4 linked regions of the Homo sapiens genome follow. The protein of the gene in region 2 interacts with the protein of the main gene of each other region in a biochemical or structural test. Each region holds a gene or a part of one and is shown on either strand. Other genes may lie near its edges. The genes, in order: PTOV1, RBPJ, NOTCH3 and RITA1.

The links.
Region 1: the proteins of RBPJ (region 2) and PTOV1 form a complex in vitro, tested with the Homo sapiens proteins (one study listed by BioGRID).
Region 3: the proteins of RBPJ (region 2) and NOTCH3 form a complex in vitro, tested with the Homo sapiens proteins (one study listed by BioGRID).
Region 4: the proteins of RBPJ (region 2) and RITA1 form a complex in vitro, tested with the Homo sapiens proteins (one study listed by IntAct).

The regions. Positions count from the first base shown.
Region 1 is NC_000019.10:49,846,064-49,854,494, reverse strand, and holds the start of PTOV1 (prostate tumor-overexpressed gene 1 protein), read right to left. Parts: upstream 3,337-8,431; 5' UTR 3,167-3,336; coding exon 2,996-3,166; intron 2,928-2,995; exon of another isoform or gene 2,819-2,927; intron 90-2,818; coding exon 1-89. UniProt on the Homo sapiens protein: May activate transcription. Required for nuclear translocation of FLOT1. Promotes cell proliferation.
Region 2 is NC_000004.12:26,421,706-26,429,596, reverse strand, and holds part of RBPJ (recombining binding protein suppressor of hairless), read right to left. Parts: intron 5,256-7,891; coding exon 5,118-5,255; intron 4,967-5,117; coding exon 4,854-4,966; intron 878-4,853; coding exon 737-877; intron 1-736. UniProt on the Homo sapiens protein: Transcriptional regulator that plays a central role in Notch signaling, a signaling pathway involved in cell-cell communication that regulates a broad spectrum of cell-fate determinations.
Region 3 is NC_000019.10:15,197,766-15,205,564, forward strand, and holds the start of NOTCH3 (neurogenic locus notch homolog protein 3 precursor), read right to left. Parts: upstream 3,231-7,799; 5' UTR 3,141-3,230; coding exon 3,023-3,140; intron 1-3,022. UniProt on the Homo sapiens protein: Functions as a receptor for membrane-bound ligands Jagged1, Jagged2 and Delta1 to regulate cell-fate determination.
Region 4 is NC_000012.12:113,188,454-113,193,492, reverse strand, and holds the end of RITA1 (RBPJ-interacting and tubulin-associated protein 1), read right to left. Parts: intron 2,184-5,039; coding exon 1,676-2,183; 3' UTR 1,125-1,675; downstream 1-1,124. UniProt on the Homo sapiens protein: Tubulin-binding protein that acts as a negative regulator of Notch signaling pathway.

The sequences.
Region 1 (8,431 bases), on a different chromosome or scaffold from region 2:
CGGTGCTCGCTCACGGCCAGACCCCCGAGGGTGAGCCCAGGTGAGGAGGGACCGATGGGACCCAGTGCCCCGAAGACCCGAGCACCTTCCTGCAATGGAGTGGGGGATAGGTGGGAAAACTGAGGCCGGGGCCTGCAAGGACAGGCAGTCCCCACACACCCCAGAGGGGACGTCCCAATATTCAGCCCCAAATCCCCTGCTGGAAGCCCACGGGGCCATGTCCAAACCCTCTGCTCACCCCTCAGGACCCCCACACGCTGGTCCTCATGTCCTTTCCCGCTGCCCACCCTCAGGACCCTTCCTTCCCAGAGCCTGCTGTCACCTTGACACTGGCCCAGCAGAGTCCTGAAGCCTTCAGCCAGCCCCACCTCCAGCCTTTGCCCCAGCTGTGCGCCTGATCGATTCTTGAGACCCAAGTTAGAAGCCAGCTGTAGGGGGCTTTCCCCGTGCCCCAGGCTGGGCCCAGGGCTTCCTTGCAGCCTCCACAGGCACAAGCCGGCTTGCGCTGTGTCTGTCCCACACACCAGCTTGCCCTGTCTTTCCCAGGCTGAAACTCTCCTAAAGCTCCCTGTCATCCCAAAGTTCAATTCCTTCCTCTGGCTCAGGCCAGTGCCCACCTCTCTGGCCTTATAAGTCTGACCCCGGGGGGAGGCAGGAAGGAGATGACAAGAAACACAGAGGGGACTAAACCATCCAGGAGAAAGACAGCGAGGAAAAGGGGGAAACATTTGGAAGACAGCTGGGACACCACCCCCAGAGGGGTCTCACAGACCAAAACATGTAGAACACCAAGAGAAAGTTCTAGCAATAAAGCCAAGCAACGCCACAAATGCTACTCACAGGCACTCTCCCCACTATTTTTATTACTATTTTTTTTTTGAGACAGAGTTTCACTCATTTCCCAGACTGGAGTGCAGTGGTGCGATCTCAGCTCACTGCAACCTCGCTCACTGCAAGCCGCGCCATCATGCCCGGCTAATTTTTTTTTTTTTTTTTTTTTTAGTAGAGATGGGGTTTCACCATGTTGGCCAGACTGGTCTCGAACTCCTGACCTCAAGTGATCCGCCCGCCTCGGCCTCCCAAAGTGCTGGGATTACAGACGAGGGCCACCAAGCCTGACCTCACTTATTGTTTTTTAAAACCAAAAACATCTCAAAGCAAACAAGGGAAAGCTCCGCAAACAGCCTGGCAGCAGGAAACCCACGAGAGTTTCCCCGTAATAGGCGCCTCCAGGCGGGGGAAAACAAATTATAAGGGTGATTTATTTTTATCTTATTACAAACAGGTATTTTCCAAATTTTCTATGAAGCACAAGGAGATCTTTCCTTCCAGAATACTAGCAAACACAAAAAATTTTATTTTGTGAGTGCTTAAAAAGAGAAAAACCTGAACAAACTTGCTCTCCACCCACGCAGGTGATTCTCCACCCACGCAGGTGATTCTTCACCCACGCAGGTGATTCTGACTTTTGGGCAGTCGTCAGAAGATCAGATAGAAAACCTGAGTATCTTGGCGTTAGAATGAGTTGGACAGAGAGTGGATGTTGCCCCGGGGGCTTCAGGCACCATACCGGACATCCAGCATCTGAGATGAGTTAAAACGCACAGCTGGAGGTGACTTTCGAGATGAGGGTACACTTACAACATACAAGTTGTTTATGGCGCTGGGACCTGAGGTATCTAGTCCGCATATACAGTGACACGTATGCATTTACTGCCACAAAGATGGGTAAAAGTCAGGAGAACGCACTTAAGAGCCCAAGCGACATACTTAATGTCTGCTTGTCTAGGAGAGCAGGTTGACTCAGGACTTCAAATATGCTGGGATCTGGAGCCATAGTAAAGAACACATATGCTTGCCTAAAACCCAGGGATACCTTCCACAGCAGGAGCAGCACATCAAGATGGGACGATCATATTTAAAAACGACGGTTAAGGTGCAACCTAAAGTAAATCTCACATCTTGGCAATCGTGTGCAAAACTGCGCGCCTGACATCCCTATTGCACAGGGAAGCCCATCTAGTACTTGCACTGAGGTTTAAAACCTTGGGGTGCATGTCTGAGGACCCGGAAAGCACTTTTGAACAACTAGATGCGAATGCTGCAGGAAGGGGCGAAGGCAGTGGAGTGAAGGGGTACGTTTAAGTTGTGGGAGGTGATCTAAGTCTCGGTATCCATGTTTATGACCCCAGGAAGCCTGTTTAAGGTTTCAGTAGGGCTGCCACAGCTCTGTGCCATCCACACCGCTGAGGCAGTGTATTTAAGAAGCGGACCCGAGCGCGAACCCAGGGGAAATCTCACATCGGGGCAAGCGTGTGCACGGTGCAAAGTCGCGATGTGCGGTTTTACAGCCCCAGGTAAACCTTACGGTTTCTGAAAAGCATGTGCATCTTTTGGGTCCGGAGAAGCGTGTGCAGCCCAAAGTACCTGCGAAGCTGAATGTTTACGTTTAAGGTCTGGGCTCACGGCAGTCCATCAAAGCATCCCACATGTGGGCGCGGGCGCGTATTCTAGGTGCGCACTCCACGGGCACGGAGCGGCCGCCAGGGGAGAACGCCCACGGGTGCGACATCTGGGGGCGCTGGTACAAAGCGCGGGCCCCTCCCTCGCCGCTGTCCCCCAAAACCGCCCCCATTTCCAGGTTTCCTGCCCGGAGAGCGAGCAACTCTCCAATAGGAAAAACAAGCGAGCGTGCCGGCTGCCTGTCTGCCGCCCCCAGCCCGCGTTTAAATCGGGCCGCGGAGTCAGCAGTAATATGAGCCCGCCCCGCCCCCGTCCCCCAACCCCCCACCCCGGCCCGAACGCGCAACAAAGGGGAGAGCGCGGCGCGAACCACCGGGTGCTCCACGGGGGAACCCGGCCCCGGGCGGGACCACCCTTCGGGCCACAGGGGACACCCCGGAGCGGCGGGGGCTGCGGACAAAGGCGTGAGCCCGGGATAGGGGCTGGGGGGGCGGGGCCGTGGAAGGCTCTGGAAAAAGGGCGGGGGGCTCACCATGGGAGGGGCCGAGCGGGCCCGGATCCGCGGAGGCTGCGGGCCTCGGGGGCTGGCAGGCCAGGAGCGCGAGCGGACGGCGCGCACCACGAGGGGCCGCGGAGGGCGGCCGCGACCCCCGAGGGGGCCCCCGGCGCCGGAGCGGTACGGGGCACGGCGCGGACGGACCATGGCGGGCGCGGGCCGAGCGGGCGGGGAGCTGCCGCGGGCCACAAGGGGGGCTGCGGGCTCCACCGACTGAGGGGCGCGGGCGCGGGCGCGCGGCTTCGGGGGAGACGGGCTGAGCCGTACCAAGCTCGGGGGACGCGCCGCCGGAGTGGGGTCGCCGCGGCCGAACCACTGAGGCGAGCGGGGGAGCCCGGCGCGTACCAAGCGCGTCCGAGGGGGCGTGGCCGGAGCGTACCAAGGCGGCGCGGGGGAGCGGGGCCCGGGCGGGAGCGGAGTGTGGGCTCGGCGGTCCTGCGGGCCTCTCCGGCGCGGGGGAGTCCTGGGAAGACGCGCGAGCCACAACTTCAGGGGGCGTGGCGGGAACGGGAGCCCCTACCGAATGGGGTGGCAGAAGAACGAAGGCGACACCAAGCTGGCCCCTTGCGGGGGTCGGGACGGCGGGAGACCTCATCCGGAGCCCTGGGCCCGCAGAGCCAGGAGACCGCGCCAAAATACATCAGGGAAGAGGGGAGGACGGAATAATGGGCCTGGGGACAAAGGAACCCACTGAAAGGGAACCCACTGAGGGTACGGATTGCACCCGAGCCTGAGACAGCTGAAGGTTTGCAGTCGGTGACGTGGCGAGGTGGGCAAGGGACTCCAACTCCCAGCGGGCCCCGCGCGGCCTGGGCGGGGCCAGCTGTCCCTGGAGGCTCCGCCCATTAGCCCCGGCGCCCAGGCTCCGCCCGCCGTCCCTGGCGACTCCAAGCTTCTCGCCACTCACGTCGCTCCCCGGCCTTCCGTGGATTCGCTCATTCGCTCTGCTAAAATGGAATGACTACTTACTAGTAGTTGTATAAGATTTTTCCCTCGATTTTTGTTCCTTAAACGTGGGTAATACCTAACCCTAGAGTGGTTATGGGGATCGAGCCCGAGGGGCTGTGCTTGACTGCTTGGCGCAGTCACTACTCAAATGTTAGCTTTTCTTTAAAAACAACAACAAAAATCTGTTATGAGTACCCTGTCCAGTTCTGTGCTCGGCGACGACCGAATCAGACCACGTCCCTCACAGGCCCCACGGTCCACTGGGGAGAGACATAATCACAGGCTGTGCTAAGTGTTAACTAGCGCACATCCACAGGGCGATGGGATATGACCATAGCGAGGTAAAGTTAGCAAGCAAGGGAAGTCAAGAAAACGACCTGTGAGCAACCTGCCATTCCAGATGGCTGGAAAAGTGTGCAAAGAGGACAGAACAGCAAAGACAAATCCTGAAAGTAGAAGGAATAAAAGGGAGCCAGTGTGGGCGGAGTCGAGTGAAGGTAGAGAGGAGAAATAGACACAGCTGTAGGAGGTTAGAGACGGAGTCCCTACTTCTGTTTCGGATGTTGACTAAACAATGTAGATAGATATTGATGTCATAGCCTGGAGAGAGAAATTCGGGAGTCATCAGTGTTTGAATGGAGACTGGATGAGCTCACAAAGAGACTGGGACACTCATCCCTTTAGCAGTCACGACAATGAGAAGCAACCAGCAAAGGACACGGAGGAGTGGCCAGTGAAATGGCAGAAGAACCCGTAGGCCTGTCCATGTTTTCCTGCCCAGGGGCTCCCGAGGGCTGACTGGAGCCCAGCCTTAAACCCCAAATCCAACCTGCATTGTGGCCAAACGGAGTCAGTGCTCCCTGAACACAAACTGCAAGTTAGTTATCAACAGGTACCTCCAATGCCCTGTCAATCACCCATGTGAGGACAACCTGGCAGCAGGAAGGAGAAAAAACAGGAGCTGCTTTAATCTCCCGGAATCCTCACTTCTCCCCATTCTTGTTGGTCCAAACCATCAAGATCTCTTGCCTGGGTGACGTCTCCTAACTCTTGCTGCCTTCTCTGTCACTACAATAATCAAAACCATCCAATGGCTTCCCAGTGCCTTTAGAATTAAATCCAAACTTGGTACTGTGGCCCCTGCTGCCGCCCCCCAAAAAATCTCTCTCCCATCCTTCCTGTTCTCTACCTGTTAATGCCTTCCCATCCCTCAGAACCCATCAGGACACACGTGAGTTTGAATGCCCTGAATTGTATAAGCATGGAGAGCGGTATACCAGGGTGTACTCCAGAGTGAGCAAAATGGGAACTCATGTCAGAAAGTGAAATGAAAATGTAGGCTGAAATTCTATCAGTAATACTGCAACAAAACTCTCTGAAACCATCTCACTTAACTCGGTCCACCAACTTGAAAGACACTTTCCTTTTCATCTGTGAAGCCCACTGCTGGGGCTAGCAGGCTACTATTATGACTAAGCAATTCCACTTCCATCTCTCAAGCTGTTTACTTCCTGAAAGGTAGCTGTTTGATCCAAACCTGTTTATGCCAGAAGTTCTTGTTTAATTTACTATCAAACTAATGAAATTAATGCAAGACAGTTGTTTATACACAAACCAGATTGCTTGCTTTGGAAAGACTAAAAGGGAGTTGTTAAAAGAAAAACATGCCAGGCGTGGTGGCTCACACCTGTAATTCTGCACTTTGGGAAGCCGAGGTGGGCAGATCACTTCAGGTCAGGAGTTCAAGACCAGTCTGGCCAACATGGTGAAACACCGTCTCCACTAAAAATACAAAAGTTAACCGGGCATGGTGGTGTATGCCTGTAGTCCCAGCTACTCTGGAGGCTAAGGCAGGAGAATCGATTGAACCCAGGGGGTGGAGGTTGCAGTGAGCTGAGATCTCACCACTGCAACTCCAGCCTGAGCAACAAAGCAAGACTCCATCTCTTAAAAAAAAAAAAATGCTGCCAAGTTAGGTACAAGTAAAGCAACTGTAAATTATTTAATGAAAAAGCTTATAAAAACCTAGGAAGACTCAGCCCCCAGTTTGTTTCATAAATGTCTTTAGGTTCTCAAGCCACTTAAAAAAATGACTCATTGTGGTTTGTGGGTGGAGCTTATACAAGAATGTGATGTTCTACTGGGCGCAGTGGCTCATGCCCGTAATCCCAACACATTGGGAGGCTGAGGTGGGAAGATTGCTTGAGCCCAGGAGCTCGAGACCAGCCTGGGCAACACAGTGAGACTCCCACCTCTACAAAAACAACAATAATTTTCTAGGCATGGTGGCATGCACCTGTGGTCCCAGCTACTCAGGAGGCTGAGGTGGGAGGATCTCTTGAGTCCAGGAGATTGAGGCTGTAGTGAGCCGTGTTCACACCACTGCACTTCAGTCCAAGTGACAAAGTGAGACCCTGTCTCAAAAACAAGAATGTAATGTCGTGTGCTAACTAGGAGACCAATACTGAAAGAAAGGGTCTTGGTCCTACGTACAAGAGATGTCTGTTTAAATGTTCTTGGTTAAAATAAGATGTTTAAAGTGTTAAGATGGCCGTTAGTGCTATTTGCCATATATTTCTAGCTCCACACTTGGCCAGCATTTGACCCCATTTAGCTTGAGTGCGGCCATGTGATTAATTTTGGCCAGTAAGGTGTGAGGCCATGTGATTACATCTGGCCAATGAGATATGAGCAGAAGTGACACATGTGAATTCAGCAAGAGCACATAATTGCTAATGGAAGACCAGACCCCTCTGCCTTTACTATGTCCATTGGCAACCTTCATGATCTGTCCGCACGGGCTCCAAGCTGACACTCAATACAGCACGAGTGACAAAATCCACCTTGGCTGTTTCAAGCCACTGCAATCTGGGGGTAATCTGGCCTTTCCTGATATACACAATTTTTTTTTCCCAAATAATCCCAGTTTAACCAACATTTGTTAAACCAATCAACTACCAAGTCTGAGTTTCCTAGAAGAACAAACTGGCAGTACATATAGGTTGGATGACATAGGCTAGGACACAATGACAACATGGACAAAGTGTTTTATACTGGCCGGGCACGGTGGCTCATGCCTGTAATCCTAGCACTTTGGGAGGCTGAGGCAGGTGGATCACCTGTTGTCAGGAGACCAGCCTGGCCAACCTGGTGAAACCCCATCTCTACTAAAAATACAAAAATTAGCCAGACGTGGTGGCAGGCGCCTGCAATCCCAGCTACTCAGGAATACAAATACAGTCTCCTGATTGATCCTCCAATTCAAGCAGGAGAATTGCTTAAACCCGGGGAGGCGGAGGTTGCAGTGAGCTGCACTCCAATCTGGGCGACAGAGCGACATTCTGTCTCAAAAAATGCTAATAGGCTGGGTGCGGTGGCTCACACCTGTAATCCCAGCACTTTGGGAGGCTGAGGCGGGCAAATCATGAGGTCAGGAGTTCAAGACCAGCCTGGCCAACATGGTGAAACCATGTCTGTACTAAAAATACAAAAAATTAGCTGGGCATGGTAGTGGGTGCCTGTAATCCCAGCTACTTGGGAAGCTGAGGCAGGAGAATCACTTGAACCCAGGAGGCGGAGGTTGCATTGAGCTGAGATTGTGCCACTGCACTCCAGCCCAGGTAACAGTGTGAGACTCCGTCTCAAAACAAACAAATAAAAAAGATAATAAAATGCTTTATGCTAAGAAATGGGAGTAAGATCATCTCTGGCTTGGATTTTTCTTTTCTTTCTTTGCAATTACAAAATAGTTTATGGCTGATTTTTTTTTTAAAGGTCTGCCTGATACATGCTTTGCAAACTCTAGGTATTTCAACTTTGTCATCATCGTGTGTGTCCAGACGCAGAGGCTCACACCTGTAGTTTCAACACTTTGGGAGGCTGAGGTTGGAGCATTGCTTGAGCCCAGGAGTTTGAGACCAGCCTGGGCAACATAGCAAGACCCCATCTCTACAACTATAAAACTAGCCAGGCGTGGTGTTACATGTCTCTAGTCCCAGCTACTCTGGAGGCTGAGGTAGGAGAATTACTTGAGGCCAGGAGTTCGAGACCAGCCTGAGCAACAGAGTAAAACTCTGTCTCTACAAAAAATACAAAAATTAGCTGGGCATGGTGGTGCGTGTCTGTAGTCCCAGCTACTCGACAAGTGGAGGTGGGAAGACTGCTTGACCCCTCTAGGCAGAGGCTGCAGTGAACCAAGGTCATGCCACTGCACTCCAGGGTTGACAGAGTGAGACCCCTGGCAATAATAGTAGTTAATATTTCTCAAGAACTTCATGTCTGAACTCACTGAATTCTCACACAGCAGGCCATGAGTTCAACAATCTTTTAATCCCCACTCCACAGATGGGGAAACCAAGGATCTGGAAGCAAAAGCCTGACGTCACAGGCTGCGGAGACACGGGACAGGGACAGGGCCCAGGTTCTTAATCTCAGTAGGTGTTGGCCTCCACTTTGTGGAATAAA
Region 2 (7,891 bases):
GCAGATCAATATCTGTGATGTAAATGGCTGTTTAAAACTCTTCAAGGACTCCTAAGAAAGACAATGGGACTCCTCATGCTTAGGCAACAGCTAGAAGCTTATGCATGTTCCATGGGAGGGAATCAAGATGGGAAGGCAAAGCCCCTACCCCTACCTTAACACACCTAGACCAGGGACTCAGCATGCCCATCAGTGTGTATGGGCATCTCTCTGCAAAGGAGTTTCACATGAAACCATAACTGTCTTATTAAATCATCTGCCCATGTCATAACCTCATGAAAGCCTTCTGAGTAAATGTAAAACATTAGCTTTCAAAGCATGTCATCATTACTATCTTCGGAAACCACGACATAAATCTGATGAGATTTTGAGCCTTCACCCAGAAAAATGCTTTGTCTATACAATGTTTGCACACAATTTCAGAGGATTCAATGAGCACTGAAAATCTATTTTTGGATATCCTGAGGGGCTCTTTGTTCTTCAATTAAGAACCCTGGAACTAGATGTTAACTGTTTTCTCTGAGAACATTTTCATAATTTTGAGTTCTTCCTTGAGGAAGGATTGCTTGCATGTCTGAGGATTGTGTGTTAAGGATGCTCATACCTGAGATAAATATCTGTGTATAGCTTCATGTATTTGTATATAATTAACAGCAAATGAAAATTTCATATTTTTGCAAGCTGCTAACCTCACAGTTTGTACATTTTAGATTTCACCAGTAATTTAAAAACATACCTGAAATTGAATTATTCTTTCTTGAGAAAGGCACAAATACATTCTTTCTGTATCCTTAAGGTAAAATGCACATTTATGGAGTTGTGACACAGGATCATCTGCATCCAATAATGCGGTCTGCTTATCAACTTTCCTAATTATCTATATTTAACAATTAAGAAATAAAAGGTCATCCACACATGGAAAGGATTTTCCTTGTGTAAAACATCAAAAGTACATAGAAGCTATATACTGCATAATAATACATCACAGTTATTTGTCCTATGCCTACATATATAAAAACATTCACAAACAAAAAGACTAGGAATAAAAAACACTTTTAGATTGCAAGCATGTCAGAATGTAGAAACTGTTACCCTCTTCCCTGAACATCTAAAAAAAAAAAATCAGGCAGGCAGGCACTTGTTTTCTAGATCAGTGTTTTTCAAACATTAATGTGCACATAAATGAGCTGGGGTTCTTGTGAAAAACACAGGTTCTGATCTAGCAGGACTCTTGTGGGGCCTGATATTCTGCATTTCTAACAAAATCCCAGTTGATGTTAATGCTGCTGGCCTACAGACCATATTTTGAACAGCAAGTTCTAATGATATTTTCCAATAATATGCATAAAATGACAAATACTCCAACATCAAAGGGAAAAATCTCTAGAAGGCTACTGTCAGTGCAAACGTCTTATATCTATTATCCAAAACTTACGTATTTAAAAACATAACAAAATCAAACTCATTTTACAGATTACAAAATGGGCTTAGAAAGGTCAGACAAATTGCTCAAAATTACCAGTTTAGTAGCTGAAGGACCAGAATATGTCCTGATCCCAGGGCTGGCTGCCTGTCCAACTGATCTCTAAAGCTTATAACGCAACTAGTCTACAAAACACATGAATATCTGAAAGATAATACTATCAAACCCTATATGACACTTGACACCTAGAAGGTAATGGCTAAGTAGATGATCATGATGAAGAGCAAAATTTGACACAGAACTTTTACTCTGTTTCCTTTTCTATTGATCACTTCCAACAACATACAAACATAACTATCTCTCATCTCAAAATCAAAAGTAAAGAAAACACTGACTACATGCTCCTGTCCCTCCCTCTCACTACCTGTTTTTCTGCAAACGCCTCTTCCTCACTGTCCAATCTCCTGCAATCTCTCCAACCTTTTATCTCAAAGACGCCACTACAACTGCTTTTCAAAGCCACCAAGGATTTCCAGACAGATGCATCTCACGGCACTTTTCTGTCCTCATTTTACTTCATTTTCTCAGAAGCTCTCAACACATTTTGCTTTCAGGACCACAACTGCTCCAACTGACCTTTAAAATGCCCAGAGCTGAGTTCTCAGCCCTCTTTTCCTCTCTTTATAATCTATACTGTTTAAAAATTTAAAGGTTGACAACTCCCAAATTTATTATCTCCAGACTTCTCTCCTGCATTCAACTTGTATGTACACTTAACTACCTATTCAACATTTCCACTTACGATGTCTAACAGGCACCTCAAGCTTAGCATATCGAAAACAGATTTTTGGATTTCCTCCTAAACTTGATCCTTCCCCAACTCATCTAGGTCAATAAATGGCACTAGCATTCACTCAATCCAAAAACCTTAAGAGTCACCCTTGATGCCTTGCTTTCTCTCACACCCAACCATCCAATCTGCCAGCAAATTCTGTCAGGTCCACTTTCCAACAAATCAGTCACCCCTCACCACCTTAATACTATGATCCTGGGTCTAAGATAGCATCAACTCTTGCCTCAATTATGACAACAATCCAAGCACCTGTCTCTCTGCTTCCACGGCCGCATTGCTATGCTCTCTTCTCCACACAGCAGCCACACATATACTTCTAAACAAAAATAGGCCATCGTGCCCCGTTTAAAATCCTCCAGTGGCCTTCTAACATGCAGAGATAATATGAAGTCCTTACCCTAGATACAGAGAGGGATCCTACAAGGTCTTGCTTAGTGCTAACCTTACAGATTCAGTTCCTGCCACTTGACCTCTCCTCCCTCCGCTCCAGCTCCACTGGTTTCTTTACTAGTCATCATACATCCCCTGCCTTCAGTTCTGTACTTGTTCTGTTTGCCTGAAATGCTCCTCACTCAATTACCGGTTCTTTGACTTCATTCTGGGCTCTCTTCAAATACTGCGACTTCAAAAAGACTTCCCTGACCTCTCTAAGCGCTCCTCCAATTCTCTATCCCTTTATTATCTTGTTTTGTTTTTTCATCACTACATAAATCCTTTACATGGGTATTTGGCTTATCACTCTATCAAAATGTAAACTCAATGACGAGAGGCACTCGACTTTGCATGTCAGAATTCCTGTCATGAAACCCCTGGAAAGATTTATGTATCAGCGTCTTAATAATGGTACTGCAACTTTTTCTAATAAGTTAATTTTTCATTGCAACATTTTTATATAAAGCCATACAGTTTTGAGTGTAAAAACCTCAATTAATGACTTTCAAGCAAGGCAGGCTACTGGTACTTTACAAACAACTGTAAATGAAAACATTGTTTTAAATTTGGGTCTGTCTTCTAAGTGGTTTGTATTATAAACTATTGGTGATCAGAATCATCCTCCTAAGTTGTGCTTCTGCAGTACAAGCATTTAACACCAAAGCAAATGAACATCATCCTTGGAACAGAGGAAATGAATGAGAAGAGAAAAAAAATGAATAAATGCTGATTCAGATTTTTTGCTTGCTTCTGTCTCCTGCTCTGTTTTTCATGCCCTTCATTCCCTAACGTTACCCTTTTTATTATAATTTGTCTCAGCTGCAAAGCTTTACAGATTACTATTACTATACTTCATGTCTTCTAGCTTATTGCATTGACATGGGAAATAAAATCACCTTGTACAATCATGACAGAGGGTAAAAAAAAAAAACAGTAACAAAGAAATGAATCACTGGCTTAGAAAACTGTAGATCAAACCAGCCTCTGCTGAAATGACCCCAGAAAATATAAGCCAGTGGAATATTGCACCAAAAAGATAAATAGGAGGCATGTTTAGGAACATTAATACTAAATGTTCTTCTACTCACCCAACCTCTTCAGTCTGACCTTGAATCAAACTTACTCATAAATCCCCTTCATCTTGAATATAAGTAAATTATATTGTTTGAGAAAAGGAGAGGGAAAATTGGGAGGGTGGTGGCACTATAGAGGACTTTTGTTTTCATTTTACTAACAAAAGTAGTTTTTACAATTTCAAGATCTCCTTTTCTGTGGTTGTTGAGATAGGATCTCATTCTGTTGCCCAGGCTAAAGTCCAGTGGTACGATCACCGCTCATTGCAGCCTTGACCTCCCGAGCTCAAGTGATCCTCCCACTTAAGCTTGAGACTACAGGTGTGCACCACCATGCCTGGCTAATTTTTTTTTTGGGGGGGCGGGGTCAGTGGTAAAGACGGTCTGACCATGTTGCCAGGACTAGTCTCGAACTCCTGAGCTCAAGTGATGCCAGGGCTAGTCACTTCTCCTTCTCCTGCCTTCACCTGTTGAAGTGCTGGGATTGCAGGTGTGAGTCACCATGCGTGGCCGAGTTTCAATGTCTTCTATTGAACAAAAGCCCTAAATCCTATGCCCTGCTCCCAGTTAGAAATACCAATTTTATTTCAGTTTTAATAAATCTATCTTCTTGTGAGAGAGTAAGCTAACAAAAATTACGCTTATATTTCAAAAGAAATAAGAATGTCTTCTGTTTGCAAACTTGGTCCTACATTGGGATATGGCAGGTACCACAAAAAAATGAATACGGTTTATCCGCATTAGTAAAGAAAAGAAATGTAATTTATAGTGCCCTCTACTGAACATCTTCAGATAAACAGCCAAAAAGGAAATTGCCACCAAAATATATTGGAAATCATTTAAGAAAAAATCATTAAGAATGTACTTGTAAAAACTGGCTATTACCTTAAAGCATTTCTGAAATAAGGTAGAGCATAACTGTCAATTATAAACAGCACTGATTACTAACATACCTTTTAAAATTAAAAAGCATAAAACTGAGGTGTGTTTTTCCATTTGAATGTTGTGATTTTCCTGTTTAAGAAATTAATTTTTACTTCACATTATCACTAAAGCAAAAGTAGAGCCATACCAATCTTGGGAGTGCCATGCCAGTAACTGAGCACACAAGTTTGACTGTTTGTCCATAATGGATGTAGCCATCTCGGACTGTGAATTCTTCTCCTTCTGATTCATCATCATCCACTGCAGTAGGTGGAAAAATAAATCAAATTGTCATCTTTTTAAATTTATTTTATGATTAGGCAAATGACAAAACTTAATATATCCATGTATCTCATCAAAAGATTTTAACAATTTCACACTAAAAACATTAAATGCACACTTTTATACTCACAGAGATGAATAAAAAAGGCTCCCCACTGCTGTGAACTGGCATGAAAATTACCTCCTTCTACATGCAAGTATCTGGTACTAACTGTCTGGGATCGTAGTCGATTAAACAGAGCCACCTTTGTTCCTGAGGCAATGCATACTGCAAAGAAAAAACAGCTCTTATTTATGTGATTGGAGCAGAAGGTGGGGAGGGAGCAAAAGAAGGAAATTCTGCTTGGCAGTGTATAATTATTCTTTCTTATCATTTAACAGTTTGACAAATATTTTCACTTTCCAAGACAGTACAGATGATATCAAAAAGTCAAGGTAACTGTTATTAATAATGTCAAGCTAATGATATCAAATGTCCATAAAAATAATTTTAAAGTGAAAGCTACACAGTATGTTTAATGTGGTGCTGATTATTAGAGAAAAACTTACTTTTAAAATAATGTTAGACAGTAGAAATTTAAATGATGACCTATTGAAAGGATGTGTATCTAAACACACTGATAAGAAAATATTTTCCTGGAATATCACTGAATGGAAAAGCAGACTATAAAATACTCTGTATGCTGTGGTTCCATTAGGCAAATGTATATATTTTTAATATGTGTTTGCATCCAATTCCACAGAATACATGCATAGAAAAGGGACCAGAAGGATGTTTGTCAGAGTTGATGGTAAATGCCTCTGCATACTGTGATTTCAGAAAATTCTGCTTTCTTCTAAATAAAGTATTGTATGAAATTTCTTGAAAATAAATCCATGTAAGCAGAAAAACATTCTGAAAGTGAAATATGTTCTCTGCCATCAAGAAACTAATATTCAGTACAAACACAAAGTTAAAGCAGTTACATAAAACTGTGTAATCTGAAATGCAAATAGCCTGAATACAAGACATAATATACCTCCTAGTGCAAGAGAGCACACCACCACCTTTGAAGCAGGTCTTGCTTTTCAGAAAGAAAACAAGAACCAAAGGACAACAAACTTAAATCTGATCACCATTCTACACTAAAGATTCTCTCCTTGACCATACTTTTAAGCAGGCTGCTCTGAGCAATCAACTAGTATTTGTCCTTGAGCCCCGTCATCAGTCTGTTTAGCTCAGTTATATATAGTAAGAATCCTCCTAAACTATCTCCCACTCTGGATCTATGATCACCTTGGCCTGCCTTTAGCAGGAATCCTAAGTCAGGTCAGAAAGAAACCTTCTACCTTTGATGTCTCCTTTTAGAAAGTTTCCATCCATTGACCCTCTCACTCTGCTTCATCCCCAAGTGTCTTTGTTGTATTCTGAAATGGAACTTGGTTCTATTTTCCCCTATTGCAATAGTACTGAATGAAATCTGTCTTTCCAACTAGGCCCACGCTCTATTTCTTTTTGACTCTACCAATTTACAGAAAATACATTAAACTATACCAAATAAATGAAATCAGCAAAATCTAGTACGTGGAAATCTCTAGTGACTAAATGTTTCAACTTACTTAAATAAATTGCAAGAGTTGAGGGGGTGTCCATAGATTATACTCAAGGACATATCACAATATAAACTGTACTAAGTGGTAGATCTGAATTTTGATTCAAGCAATCTGATTTTTAAAATATTTTAGACCATTTTAAATTTGAACACTGATTGGATATGCATCAAACTAAAATAAGGGCAGAAGAAAGTGGGGCTGGAGTACAGGTATAGATGAAGATAAGATTGGTTGAATGTTAAGATCACTGTTGACGTTAGAGAATGAACATAAGAGGTTTCACTGTATGGTGCAACTCTGTCTACTTGAGAGTGTTTGAAATTTTTCCGTAATAAAAACTAAGTGATATTAGTGGACTGAGTGGACTAAAATATAACCAATACAAAACAACAACAATAACAACAACCACAACAAAAACCATGATCTCATAATAAAACAAAATGAAAAGAAAGCAAACAAAACAAAAACCCTAAAACCCCACTGGTCACTTTCAAGGAATGTTATTATTCTGCAAATGAGTAAACAAGCACCTAATCCTGCCTTTTCATTACATATTACAATTGAAGCAAATAGCTGATATGGCAAAGTCCCTCTTTGTAGAAAAAACTCCAGCTAACGAATGCAGAAGTTAGAATTTAAAAAATTAGAATATCACCATTTTGCAGCATTTAATGAAATGGATTTAAACATCATCAATGACTATTAAAACCATTAGGTTAAAGTTTGCTGAGGAACTTTATGGGTGGAATAGACTTACAACAGCTGAACTACTATAATCAATCTCAACATGACCAAAAAAAAAAAAGGGGATAATCAGATATTATGACTTCCAATCCAATGGAAATAAATGTATATCTTACCAATCAGTTCTGAAAGTCTTTATGTCTAACCACCAGTTCATGGAAAGTAAGAGAGACAGAGAAACATATAATCAGCCAAACCCAGAATATGGAATTCCACAACAGGAAAAATGATCCAGTTTCTTCAACAAATAAATGACATAGAAGGAAAACAAAGGTGAGAGAGGGTGAGAAGAAACTATTACAGACTAAAATGTGTGGACCTTATCTGAATCCATGTTTGAACAAACCACTGTAAAACAAAACAAAGCAAAAAAACTATAAAAAGACATTCTGGGTCAATCTGATAAATCTGTACATGAAATAGGATATTAGATGACACTTAAGAGCTGCTGTCAACTGTTACGTATAATGATGTTTCAAAAAAAAGGGCATGTATTAGTCACTATTGCAGAAATTTTGGTTGAAAGGATAGGATGAGATTTACATTAAAATACTCCAGCAATTAGAA
Region 3 (7,799 bases), on a different chromosome or scaffold from region 2:
TGAGGCTGCAGCTGTCCCTGCCAGCTCGAGCCCTGGGAACCACAAAGCAGGGGAAGGCAGGAGGAGGGGCTGTCTTATGCCAGATGTGGGGGCTCGGGAAGCTGCCAGAGCTAAGATGTGCAGAATGGGGTGTGCTGAGACAGGAAGTAAGGGTGCTGAGTGTTACAGGGAGGTCTGGGGCTTCATGCCCAGGTTCAGGGGTAATAGAAGGGGAAGGGGCAGGGGATCCTAGGGCCACGGGTCTTCCTTTCCCTGATGGGCATCTACTCCAGCCAGGCAGGCCTGCGTGGTGCTCTTGGGAGAGGGACCAAGGCATGTACCCACGAGTGAGCACAGCATCTCCAGAAGCAGCCAGCGCTGGGCGTTGCTGGAATAGGGTGTGTGTTGAAGGGAGGGGCAACTGGCACAAGGCATGTGCTGCCCTGTCCAACATCGCCATCCCTAAGGGCTGTGTCCCTCTAGGGTGTGGCATAGTCTAACTGTCCTGCCAGAAGGGTCCAGGGTGTGGCTGGGTCTGAGCTAGTGGAGAACTGTGTGCATGCGATCAGGTGTGGGGACACAGTGCGTGTGTCCATGCATGCTCTTGTCAGAGAGAGGGTGATGGAGAGAGGAAGGAAGATCGAGAAAAACACAAAGACGTGAGAATGAACTAGAAGCAGATAGACCAGGAGAAGACAGAGAAGGACAGAAAGAAATAGAAAGCGGCCAGGCATGGTGGCTCACGCCTCTAATCCCAACACTTTGGGAGGCCGAGGCTGGTGGATCACCTGAGGTCAGGAGTTCGAGACCAGCCTGGCCAACACAGTGAAACCCAGTCTGTTCTAAAAATATAAAACTTAGCTGGGCATGGTAGCAGGTGCCTGTAATCCTAGCTACTCAGGAGGCTGAGGCAGGAGAATCGCTTGAACCCAGGAGCCAGAGGTTCCAGTGAGCCGAGATCACGCCATTGCACTCCACCCTGGGCAACAAGAGCCAAACTCCATCTCCAAAAAAAAATTAGCTGGGTGTGGTGGCGCACGCCTGTAGTCCCAGCTACTCGGGAGGCTGAGGCAGGAGAATCGCTTGAACCTGGGAAGCGGAGGTTGCAGTGACCCGAGATTGCGCCACTGCATGCCAGCCTGGCAACAGAGTGAGACTGTCTCAAAAAAAAAAAAGAGAGAGAGAAGGACAGAAAGAAATAGAAAACAAGAGGGTGAGTTACAGAATCTGTCGAGCTGAACCTGAGCATGGGCCTACATAGTATATGCCCCTTCCTCACAGGACAAGCCGACTGGACACCATCACCCACACCAGGACCTGTGGGTGTTCGTGAACTCACACTGTGGGTCCCATAACATGGGCTATGGGCCACCCTGAGCTGTAGGCAATGTGAGCCACATGTGTGTGCGTGCACGGGCTTGTGTGTCTGTATGTGGATTTGGGCATGCATCTATTGTGTCTCAGTTGCAGCTACATGTGAGTCTATCTGTACATGCATGTCAGCGTGGGTGTGCCCGTGTGTGTATGAGCTGCACACCCATACGGGAATGCACAGATGTGTGTGCTGTCTGTATGCAGGTTGTGTCTGTTGTGCGTCTGTGTATGTGAACCGTGTAAATGGGTGTACAGCTGTGTGTTGGTGTGACCTGTGTGTGCACCGCTGTGTCTGTGTATGGGTTGGCTGTGTCTGTCCATCTGCATGTGTGAGCTGGGTGTAAGCATGTCCTTGAGTCTTCATCTATGTGCTGTCTGAGTGTGTGCAGGCAGCGTGTGTGCCACACCTGTGTGATCATATTTGTGTGTGTATGTATGTCAATGTGTGAGCTGTGTGCGTGCAGCTGGGTGTGTCTTTCCTGAGCCAGGTGTGCAAGTCTGCGAGTGTGCTGTGTGTGTGCAGGTTTGCATCTCTGTTACGTGACCTAGAGCTATGTGTGCCAGCGAGTGTGTCACAGGCCATGTGTGTGCGCCGCTGGTCCGGCGGAGGCGGCGGCTCCTGCCTGGTCCTGCCCCGTCCGGGCCCCGGGGCTGGGCTGGGGAGGCCGTTCACTCCCGAAACCCCCACCCCGCCCAGCGCCAAGCCCCACACTGGCGTCTGGGACCCCTGGCCAGGGGCCTTGGCCCGCGCCCCTCCCCCGCCCACCAGGCCTCCCGTAGCGGTGAGGGGGGTGCCCCCGCAGCCCCCTCCCCGGCCCAGCCGCGGGTCCCGCTTTGTCTGGCAAAGAAAGCGCGAGGCCGGCCGGAGGGAGGGGGTGTCTAGACGGCGCGGCCATTGTCCCGAGCGGGGGAGGGGAGGGAGGAGAGGAGGAGGGGCGGGGGCCCCTGGCCGGCTGGGGAGGGGCTCTGGCCGCGGGGAGGGGGCGCTGGAGCCGAAGGGGAGCACGTGGGCCCTCGCCCCTTCCCCTCCCCGCGCAGGGGCGGGGTCCCAGGGCCTCCGGGTCCCCGCGGCCAGAGGAGAGAGGCGGGCTGCGGGCGGGGGAGGGGGCGCGCGCGCCGCCGAGGCTCCGGCTCGGAATCCGGCTCCGGGTCTTGCTGCGCGCCGGCCTGGGAAGTTTTCTCCGAGTTCAGAGCTCCCAGAACTTCGCGCCCCCTCCCCACCCCCCGCCTGGCCCAGCCCGCCCGGGGTGTCGGGGGCGGGGTGGGGGGGCTTTTGTGCGAGAGGTCCCCGGCCTAGAAGTACCTGGGCCCCCAATCATAACCTACCCAGGACTCCAGGCGTGAGTTGGATGGGGACGAGTCCCGAACTCTGTACGCACCCCCCCACCTCGAGTCCCTGATCCCCGCACCTCGAGCTCCCAGTCTCGGACTCCTGGGTCCCTTCATCTTCAGCTCTAATCGCTCAAGGGTCCCTGTTCCTTGGGCCTCTGGGGTCCTCCCCATTCTGAATCTCTGGGTCCTCCAGGACTGGCATGAAGCCCGGGGCTCCTGCGCCCCTTCCCCGACCCTGGTTCCTGCCTCCCATGAACCCCCGCCAGCCCCGGCCTTGGGGGTTCTTGCACTCCCCCTCTGCCGCCCTCGTCCCATCCGCCAGGTCCCGGCCCCTCACCTGCAGCCCCCGGCCCCGCTAGCAGCAGCAGCAGGGGCAGCGCCCGCACGGGTGGCGGTGGCGGTGGCGGCGACATCGGGCGACGGCGGCGGCGGCGGCCACGGGCCCCCGGCCCCATGGCGGCCGGCCGCGACCCTCCCCTCCTCCCTCCTTCCCTGGGCTCCGGGCGCGTCCCGGGCCAGCCTCCGCGCCGCCAACTTCGCCGAAGTGAGGCGGCCGGGCCGCCCCGCCCCCAGCCCTCGAAGGCTCGCCCCGCCCCGGGGCCGGCCCAGCGCGCCCCCGCCCCCCGCCCGGCCTCCCGGGGTCCCTGCCCACCCTCCACCCGCACAGCCTGGGACGCGCGGACCCTCGGAAACCCAGGCCGAGCATGCAGTGAGACGCGGGCAGAACCCGGAGTGGCGGGCACACCCAACCTCGTGAACGCCCACGCACCCCATCCCCATCCCCCAGTACACACCCAGAGCCGGACACCTCTGGAGCCGGGACAAAAAACACAGCCTCCCAGAAACTCTGGAAACTGAGGCCAGTCACGTCCTGAGAGGCTCATGGACCCACAGCCACGGACGCACAAATGCAAGCCCATGCACCAAGCTTCCCCAGGACTCTGATCTAAAACATTCACAAACCTAAAAGTCGGACCGGGCGCGGTGGCTCCGGCCTGTAATCCCAGCACTTTGAGAGGCAGAGGTGGATGGATCACTTGAGGTCAAGAGTTGGAGACCAGCCTGGCCAACATGGTGAAACCCGGACTCTACTGAAAATACAAAAATTAGCTGAGCGTGGTGGCGCACGCCTGTAGTCCCAGCTATTCGAGAGGCTGAAGCAGGAAAATCGCTTCAACCCAGGAGGCTGAGGTTGCACTTAGCCGAAATCGTACCACTGCGCTCCAGCCTGGGCAACAGAGTAAGACCCTGTCTCAAACAAAACAAACAAACAAAAAACCGCTAAAACTCACTCAGCCAGGCCAGGAGCCTAGGACTACATTTGCAGCCTCAGACCTCAGACACGTACTAGGAGTCACATGCATGTGTGTGTGTTCACACATGCACACACAAACTCTTCTTGCTCTCAGCCCTCCCAGAAAGCAACCCACTTCCTCTGTGACTCTCAAAGGGTCACCCCAGCCCCCTAGTCCCACCCCCATACCCCACACAGCTTTGGGCCTCAGCCTATCTGGCTCAATTTGATTAATTCTCTTTTCTTTTTTTTTTTTTTTTTGAGACAGCGTGTCGCTCTGTCACCCAGGCTGGAGTGCAGTGTCCCTATCTTGGCTCACTGCAAGCTCTACCTCCCAGGTTCAAGCGATTCTCCTTCCTCAGCCCCCACCCCCACAATCTGCCAAGTAGCTGGGATTAGAGGTGTGCGCCACCATACGTGGCTAATTTTTTCTGGGTTTTTGTTTACTTGTTTGTTTGTTTTTGAGACGGAGTCTCGCTCTGTTGCCCAGGCTGAAGTGCAGTGGCATGATCTCCGCTCACTGCAAGTTCCGCCTCCTGGGTTCACACCATTCTCCTGCCTCAGCCGTCCGAGTAGCTGGGACTACAGGCAACTGGCACCATGCTCTGCTAATTTTTTTTTTGTATTTTTAGTAGAGACGGGGTTTCACCGTGTCAGCCAGGATGGTCTCGATCTCCTGACCTCGTGATCTGCCTGCCTCAGCCTCCCAAAGTGTTGGGATTACAGGCGTGAGCCACCGCGCCCAGCTTCTATTTTTTTAGTAGAGACTGGGTTTTGCCATGTTGGCCAGGCTGGTCTCGAACTCCTGACTTCAAGTGATCCGCCCGCCTCAGCCTCCCAAAGTGCTGGGATTACAGGCGTGAGCCACCACGCCCAGCCTTGATCAATTGCCTTTTCCCAAATCAGTCATGCTGCACAGGCTTCCTGCAGCTCCCTCTGTTCCTGTGGAAAGAATGGGGACCCTGAGAGGCCTGGAGCCCAGCCCTGGAGGAACTTCCAGTCTGGGGAAGAAAAAGCTAGACGCACACACACCCAGTGTGGAGGGCTCAGGGCTGGGCCAGAGAAAGGCATGGAATCTGGGAAGGGCCTGGGGTACACGGGTGGTGGGTGAGGACTTTGCCTGGGAGGGTTATTTATTTGTTCATTCATGTATTCAACAAGTATGGCTAAGGCTCCAGCCCTGTATCACACTCTGTTCTATGGACTGGGGGTGCACCCTGGAGGGCGTCCAAGAGGACGTCCAGTGGGGCTTGGCCCTGAAAGTTGAGCTGGAGGGAAGTCATCCCAGCAGAGGGACTGGCCCATGCCAACAGGAAGGGACAGAGTTGGAAGGGAACGTGTACAGGCCAGAGGTTAAGAGGAGAAAGGAGCCATGCTTACTCCTTGGTATCTGGCTTGGTGATAAGGATGCTGGAAGAAGGAATGGGTTGGGTGGAGGAGAGATGCTGGGTTTGAGGGGGTCACCTACAAGGCAGGTATGGCTGAGCATGGGAGAACCATTCTGGTAGGAGATAGTCACATGGGTATCCCAGAAATCTTCAGACAATTTTTTTTTTTAGACAAAGTCCCTCTGTCACCCAGACTGGAGTGCAGTGGCGCGCGACCTCGGCTCACTGCAACCTCTGCCTCCCGGGTTCAACTGATTCTCCTGCCTCAGCCTCCCAAGTAGCTGGGATTACAGGCACACACCACCATGCCTGGCTTTGTATTTTTAGTAGAGACAGGGTTTCACTATGTAGGCTAGGCTAGTCTCAAACTCTTGAACTCAGGTGATCTACCCTCCTCTGCCTCCCAAAGTGCTGGGATTACAGGCATGAGCCACCACGCCGGGCCAATTTTTTTTTTTTTTTTTTTTTTTTTTGAGATGGAGTTTTGCTCTTGTTGCCCCGGCTGGAGTATAATGGCGCAATCTCGGCTCACCACAACCTCTGCCTCCTGGGTTCAAGTGATTCTCCTGCCTCAGCTTCCCGAGTAACTGGGATTACAGGCATGTGCCACCATGTGTGGCTAATTTTGTGTTTTTAGTAGAGACAGAGTTTCTCCATGTTGGTCAGGCTGGTCTCCAACTCCCGACCTCAGGTGATCCACCTGCCTCAGCCTCCCAAAGTGCTGGGATTACAGGCATGAGCCACCACTTCCGGACTCTTTTTTTCTTAAGACCAAGTCTCGGTCTGTGGCCCAGGCTGGAGTGCAGTGGTGCCATCTCGGCTCACTACAACCTCCATTCCTGAGTTCAAGCGATTCTCCTGCCTCAGTTCCCCCCGCCACCCCAAGTAGGTGGAACTACAGGCCCACACCACCATGCCCGGCTAATTTTTGTGTCTTTGGTAGAGACAGGGTTTCACCATGTTGTCCAGGCTGGTCTCGAACTCCTGACCTCAAGTGATCTACCCACCTCAGCCTCCCAAAGTGCTGGAATTACAGGCGTGAGCCGCCATGCCTGGCCACAGTTTTTTTAACTTTTTATTTGAAAATAATTTAAGCCGGGCGCGGTGGCTCATGCCTGTAATCCCAGCTCTCAGGGAGGCAAGAGGCGGGAGGATAGCTTGAGCCCAGAAGTTCAAGACCTGCCTGGGCAATATAGTGAGACCCCATTCTCCACAAAAAGGAAAAAAAAAAAAAGACGAAAATAATTTAAAACACACAAAGTTGCATGCCGGGCGTGGTGGCTCATGTCTGTAATCCCAGCACTTTGGGAGGCTGAGGCAGGAGGATTGTTTGAGGCCAGGAGTTCAAAATCAGTCTGGGCAACATAGCAAGACCTCCATCTCTATAAAAAATTAAAATAAAATTAAGAGGGTGTAGTGGTGAGCGCCTGTAGTCCCAGCTACTTGGGAGGCTGAAGTGGGAGGATCACTTGAGCCTGGATGTCACTGCACTTCAGCCTGGGCAACAGAGCAAGAACCAACTTCAAAACAAAAACAAAAAAAACTGAGAGTTACAGAATAGCGTGAACAACTTGTATAAGCCCTTTGTCCAGATTCACCAACCACCCACATTTTGCCACATTTGACATATATGTGTACATATACGTTATACACATATGCATATATGCATTTTTTGGCTAAATGATTTGAGAGTAAGTTGTAGATATGATGTTCCTTTGCCTTCAAATACTTTGCTGTGTGTTTCCTGAGAACAAGGGTATCCTCTTTCATAAACATACTACAGTTTTTGCCCCAGTCTGTATTCAAAGTTTGCTAGTTGCCCAAATAATATCCTTTATTGGGCCAGGTACAGTGGCTCACACCTGTAATCCCAACACTTTGAGAGGCCAAGGAGGGAGGATTGGTTGAGGCCAAGAGTTCAAGGCCAGCCTGGGCAACATAGTAAGACTCCTGACTCTACAAAACTAGAAAAAATTAGCAGCATATAGTGGCGCGTACCTGTAGTCCCAGCTACTCAGGAGGCTGAGGTGAGAGCGTTGCTTGAGCCCAGGAGGTCGAGGCTGCCGTGAGCTGTGATCATCCTGCTCCACTCCAGTCTGGATAACAGAGCAAGACCCTGTGGGGAAAAAACAAAAAAATTAGTGGCCGGGCGCGGTGGTTCACACCTGTAATTCCAGCACTTTGGGAGGCTGAGGCCGGCTGATCACCTGAGGTCAGGAGTTCAAGACCAGCCTGGCCAACATGGTGAAACCCCTTTTCTACTAAAAATACAAAAATTAACTGGGCATGGTGACAAGTGCCTGTAATCCCAGCTACTCGGGAGGCTGAGGCACGAGAATCGCTTGAACCCAGGAGGCGGAGTTTGCAGTGAGCCGAGATCGCGACACTGCACTCCAGACTGGGCAAAAGAGCATGATTCAGTCTCAAGAAAA
Region 4 (5,039 bases), on a different chromosome or scaffold from region 2:
CCCATGTAGCTGGGACTACAGGCGCCTGCCACCGCGCCCGGCTAATTTTTTGTATTTTTAGTAGAGACAGGGTTTCACTGTGTTAGCCAGGATGGTCTCGATCTCCTGACCTCGTGATCCGCCCGCCTCGGCCTCCTAAAGTGCTGGGATTACAGGCATGAACCACCGCGCCCAGTCCAAAAAAATTTTTAAAAGAAGTTAGCCAGGCATGGTGGTGCATGCATGTAGTCCCCGCCACTCAGGAGGCTGAGGGGGAGGATGGCTTGAGCCGGGAGGTCAAGTCAGCAGTGAGCTATGATCGCACCACTGCACTCCAGGGTGGGCAAGGAAACGAGGCCCCGTGTCTTAAAAAACAAAACAAAACAAAAAAAAGAAACACCAAAAACAAACAAACATACAAACAAACAAACAAAAAACAAAGCATGTTTGCATGAGAGCACAGCTGGCCTGCCTGACCCCACAGGTGTTTCTGTGTGTCACTGGTCCTGGGCACTGCAGGTCTCCCTCCCCAGCAGTGTCCACTCTTCCCTGCCCCAAGGCAGACGTACCAACCAGATGATGTGGCTTCCAACTGGACTCCCTAAAATCCTGGTGCCTCCTGGAGGTGCCTTACAGGAAGACGGGGGCAAGGAGAGGCCCAGAGCCCAGCCCACACTGCCCAATCTGGGTGCAATTCCATCTGCGCAAAGGCTTTGTTGCTTTTCCTAAGTCCTGGGCTGCATCCTAAGTGCTCTGCAGACACACATGTCACTGTCTGGCTTTCTTGGACCCTCCACTTGGCAAAGTCCTAGCCATTGTGTTTTATTTCCCACCTTAACACACACACACACACACACACACACACACAAACAAACTTAAAAACAAAACTAAAAAAATACTATTGTCTGTACTCTGAGCTAAGGAAGAGCCGGCCAACCACAAGTTAGTGGCATTAGCCAGAAGCCGACGGGAGGAAGAGTCCAGCGCTTCCCGAAGCCCCAGATTCCCAAACTTCAGTTACCCACTCACCGCTGTCATGTTGCCTGCCACATCCTTGTACTATCTGTTGTATTTAACTTTGTTATTTAAATCAACTCAGGCCTAACAATGGCCTTTACCCTGAGGGGGAAAAAAAGTGACATTCATGGCTTTGATGAGCTGATCTATTTAGTACATGAAAATAAATTCAGAAGCATATTAAGATGAAACAGTGTTCACTCACAAATCTCCCAGTTGCCGTTGTGTTCCCCAGGCTTCACAGACAGCCTGGAAAAACTCCTCTAGGGCTTGCAGACTTAGCTGGAAACTAATCCTGAGCAGGAAGCTTGGCTTGAAGGGATAAGAGGGGACCCTCCAGGTTGGCAATCACGCCGTTTATTCGCACTTGGCAGCAAGACAATGGATGATGTGGGAGGTGCCAGGCCCCTGGGTTGGCACTAATTTGGAGTATGGTTGAGACAGGGCTGGAGAGAGGCATCTTAGAGGTGGCCCCCAAATCCGCAATCGGGAGAAAAAGGCAAGAATCGACTAGAGATTGTCAGGATAAAGGGAGGCACTGCCCACCCCTGCTATGTCTGTCTGCCCCCACAGGGGCTTCTTTAATACCTGGGGTTCCCTGGGTGATGAATGTCCTCCTACCCTGGCAAGGGGCCATACCTGTCGCCGTGGCCCCATAGGCAACCCTGATGAAAGAGTATCATTTCCAAGGGGGCTTTGGTTTCTGGGTGGCCCCACCTCGTCGTGGGGTAGATGGCACTGAAATGCTAACTGAGCGAGCCCTGGAAGTCACCAGGGGGCTCCGGAAGGTCACCCCTGACGTGGAAGGCCTGAGATCCTGAGGCCCATTTGTGTGGGGGGCACTGGTGGCTGGATGACCAGTGCTGGGGACATTCAGGTGGGTGAGGGAATGGGAAAGTCCCCGCTTCAGGGGGCGTGAAGAGTGTAACCCACCCATAGATAACTTCTGGGAGTCTGCCGCTGGCCCCGGCTCTGTCTTGGAGGGACCAGCTGGGTGAATGGCTCGCAGTGGTGCCTCCCTGGGGCGGGGCGAGTGGCTACCCCTGGGGGTAGGTGGTGGCGTCCACAAGAGAGCACGGAGCTTTGCGGCATCCCCCTTCGCCATCCGCGGGGCCCCGAAGCTGGCGCCTTCAGATCGGGAGCCAAACAGCGACTCATCACAGTAAGACGGGGTGTGGCTGATGGGTCTGGCAAATGGAAGATAAACGCCATGAGCTGGGGGATGAACAACCCCTCAAAACTTTAACAGCTCTCCCACCCACCCTGGGATGGCAGCAGCAGAGGAGGGTTGCCTGCAGATCCCAGGAGTCCTTGTCTCCCAGTCTGAAACCTACAGCGAGGCCACAGCCTCTTAAGCACCACTGCCCCCGGTCTCTGCTGATTTTCCCTGCGAAACATCCACTGCCCCTGCATCCTGACCCCATTCCCAGACATGTGCCCCAGGCCTGGACAATTTGCATATTCCATCCTCCTGGCCACATGGATTGGTTCACGAATGGCCAGATGACCCAAGCCTGTCCAATCAGAATCTGCCTTAGGACCTTGCAGAAACCACTAGGAAAGAGATGTCTTTCTGCCACCTGACTTTACTTCTTGCTAAGCTGATAGGATGTCAGCCCAAAGCAGCTTGTGGCTATCTCCTTCCTACTGAAGATTGAAGGGCATGCAGGGAAAAGCAGCACTAAGGTGGAGACAGACAGTTCCAGCCACAGTTTGAGCCCCTGTTACAGGAGCCCCACATGCCTTCTCCTGGGGAAGCCAGTTTGAATAAGTTTTCTGTCACTTGCAATTGAGAGTCACAATTAGTATAACCTTAGTCTTTATAGCCTCCACTTTTTCTTTTCTTTGTGAGACACGATCTCACTCTGTTGTTCAAGTGGAGTGTAGTGGCACAGTCACAGATCACAGCAGCCTCAAATTCCTGGGCCCAAGCAATCCTCTCACCTCAGCCTCCCTAATAGCTGGGACTACAGGCACAGTGCCACCAAGCCCAGCTAATTTTTTTGTTTTTGATTTTTAGTAGAGATCAGATTTATGTTGCTCAGGCTGGTCTTGAGTTCCTGAACTCAAGCAGCCCCCTGCCTTAACCTCTCAAAGTGTTAGGATTGCAGGAGTAAGCCACCGTGCCCATTTTCTTTTCTTTCTTTCTTTTTCTTTTTTTTTCTGAGACAGAGTCTCGCTCTGTCACCCAGGCTGGAGTGCAGTGGTGCAATCTCAGCTCACTGCAACCTCCGCCTCCTGGGTTCAAGCGATTCTCCTGCCTCAGCCTCCTGAGTAGGCGGGATTACAGGCATGTGCTACCATGCCCAGCTAATTTTTGTATTTTTAGTAGAGACGGGGGGGGTTTCACCATGTTGGCCAGGCTGGTCTTCAATTCCTGACCTCATGATCTACCCACCTCGGCCTCCCAAAGTGCTGGGATTACAGGCAAGAGTCACTGCGCCCGGCCTTTTTTTTTTTTTTTTTTAAGAGACAGGGTCTCACTCTGTCACCCAGGCTGGAGTGCAGTGACGCTCGCTGCAGCTGCGAACTCCTGAGCTCAAGTAATCCTCCCACTTCAGCCTCCAGAGTAGCTGGGACTACAGGTATGCACCACTATGCCCTGCTAATATTTTTATTTTTTGTAGAGACAGGGATCTCACTATGTTGCCCAGGCTGGTCTCAAACTCTGGAGCTCAAGCGATCCTCCCACCTCAGCCTCCCAAAGTGCTGGGACTACAGGCCTGAGTCAGCCTGTCTGGCCTTTTTTTTTTTTTTTTTTTTTATTCAACAGATATTCACGGCATACCTGCAAGATTCCACGCCCATAGTTTTTTTGGCCAGGACTGAAAGTGCTTCTATCCCCAAACTGCAAGTCTTTGAAAGGGCAAGCTTTTGCCACTTGGTTTAGCTGCTCAAACCACATTGGCTAATGCCTGTATATGTCTGGTGCCAAGGTTTTTGCTCAATAACTTCTCTACCTCTTATGCAACCCCTCACTTGACACCCTCTACCTGTTGGCATCCAGAAGAAAATTCCACCCTCCAGGTGAGCAAGGAGTTGTCACCTCCCTTTTCATGGACACCATACTTCCTAATGCAGCCTATCTTTACCTCAGTGTTTTCAGCCATGTTGTAGGTATCAGTGTTGCTAATCTCCACCTGACCCTGCCTTGTCTACAGAACTGGCAATAACTGATTCTTGTTTTTATAATAGGTATCATTCCCATTCTCATTTCATTTCTCTCATCTGAAATATGTCCCTGTGGTTCAGAATGAACCCTAACTTTAGCTGGCCAGTTCTTATGGACTGAATTGTGCCCACCCAAATTCATATGTTGAAGCCCTAACCCCAAATGTCTCTACACTTGGCCTTAATTATTTAGATTAATTAAAGGTAATTAAGGCTGGCCAGACATGGTGGCTCACATCTGTAATTCCAGCACTTTGGAAAGCAGAGGCGGGAGAACGACTTGAGCTCAGGAGTTTGAGACCAGCCTGGCCAACACAGTGAAACCCCGTCTCTACTAAAAATACAAAAATTAGCCAGGCATGGTGGCGTGCACCTGTAATGCCAGCTACTCGGGAGGCTGAGGCAGGAGAATTCCTTGAACCCGGAGGTGGAGGCTGCAGTGATCCGAGATGGTGCCACTGCACTCCAGCCTGGGCGACAGAGCCAGACTCCATCTCAAAAAAAAAAAAAAAAAAAAAAAAAAAAAAAAAAAAAAAAAGGTAACTAAGGCTAAATAACATTATAAGGGTAGGGGATCCTAATCCAATAGAACTGGTGTCCTTATGAGAGGAAGAGACATCAGGGGTGTGTGTGTATACAGAAAAGGCCCTTGCATGTAATTGAAGGATTAAAAAAAAATGAGAAAAGGCCCTATGATGACACTGTGAGAACGTGGCCAACTGCAAGCCAAGGAGAGAGGCCTCAGGAGAAACCAAACCTGCCAACACCTTGATCTTGGGCTTCCAGCCTCCAGACTGTGACAAAATAAATTTGTGTTGTGGCCAGGCGCGGTGGCTCATGCCTGTAATCCCAGCACTTCGGGAGGCCAAGGC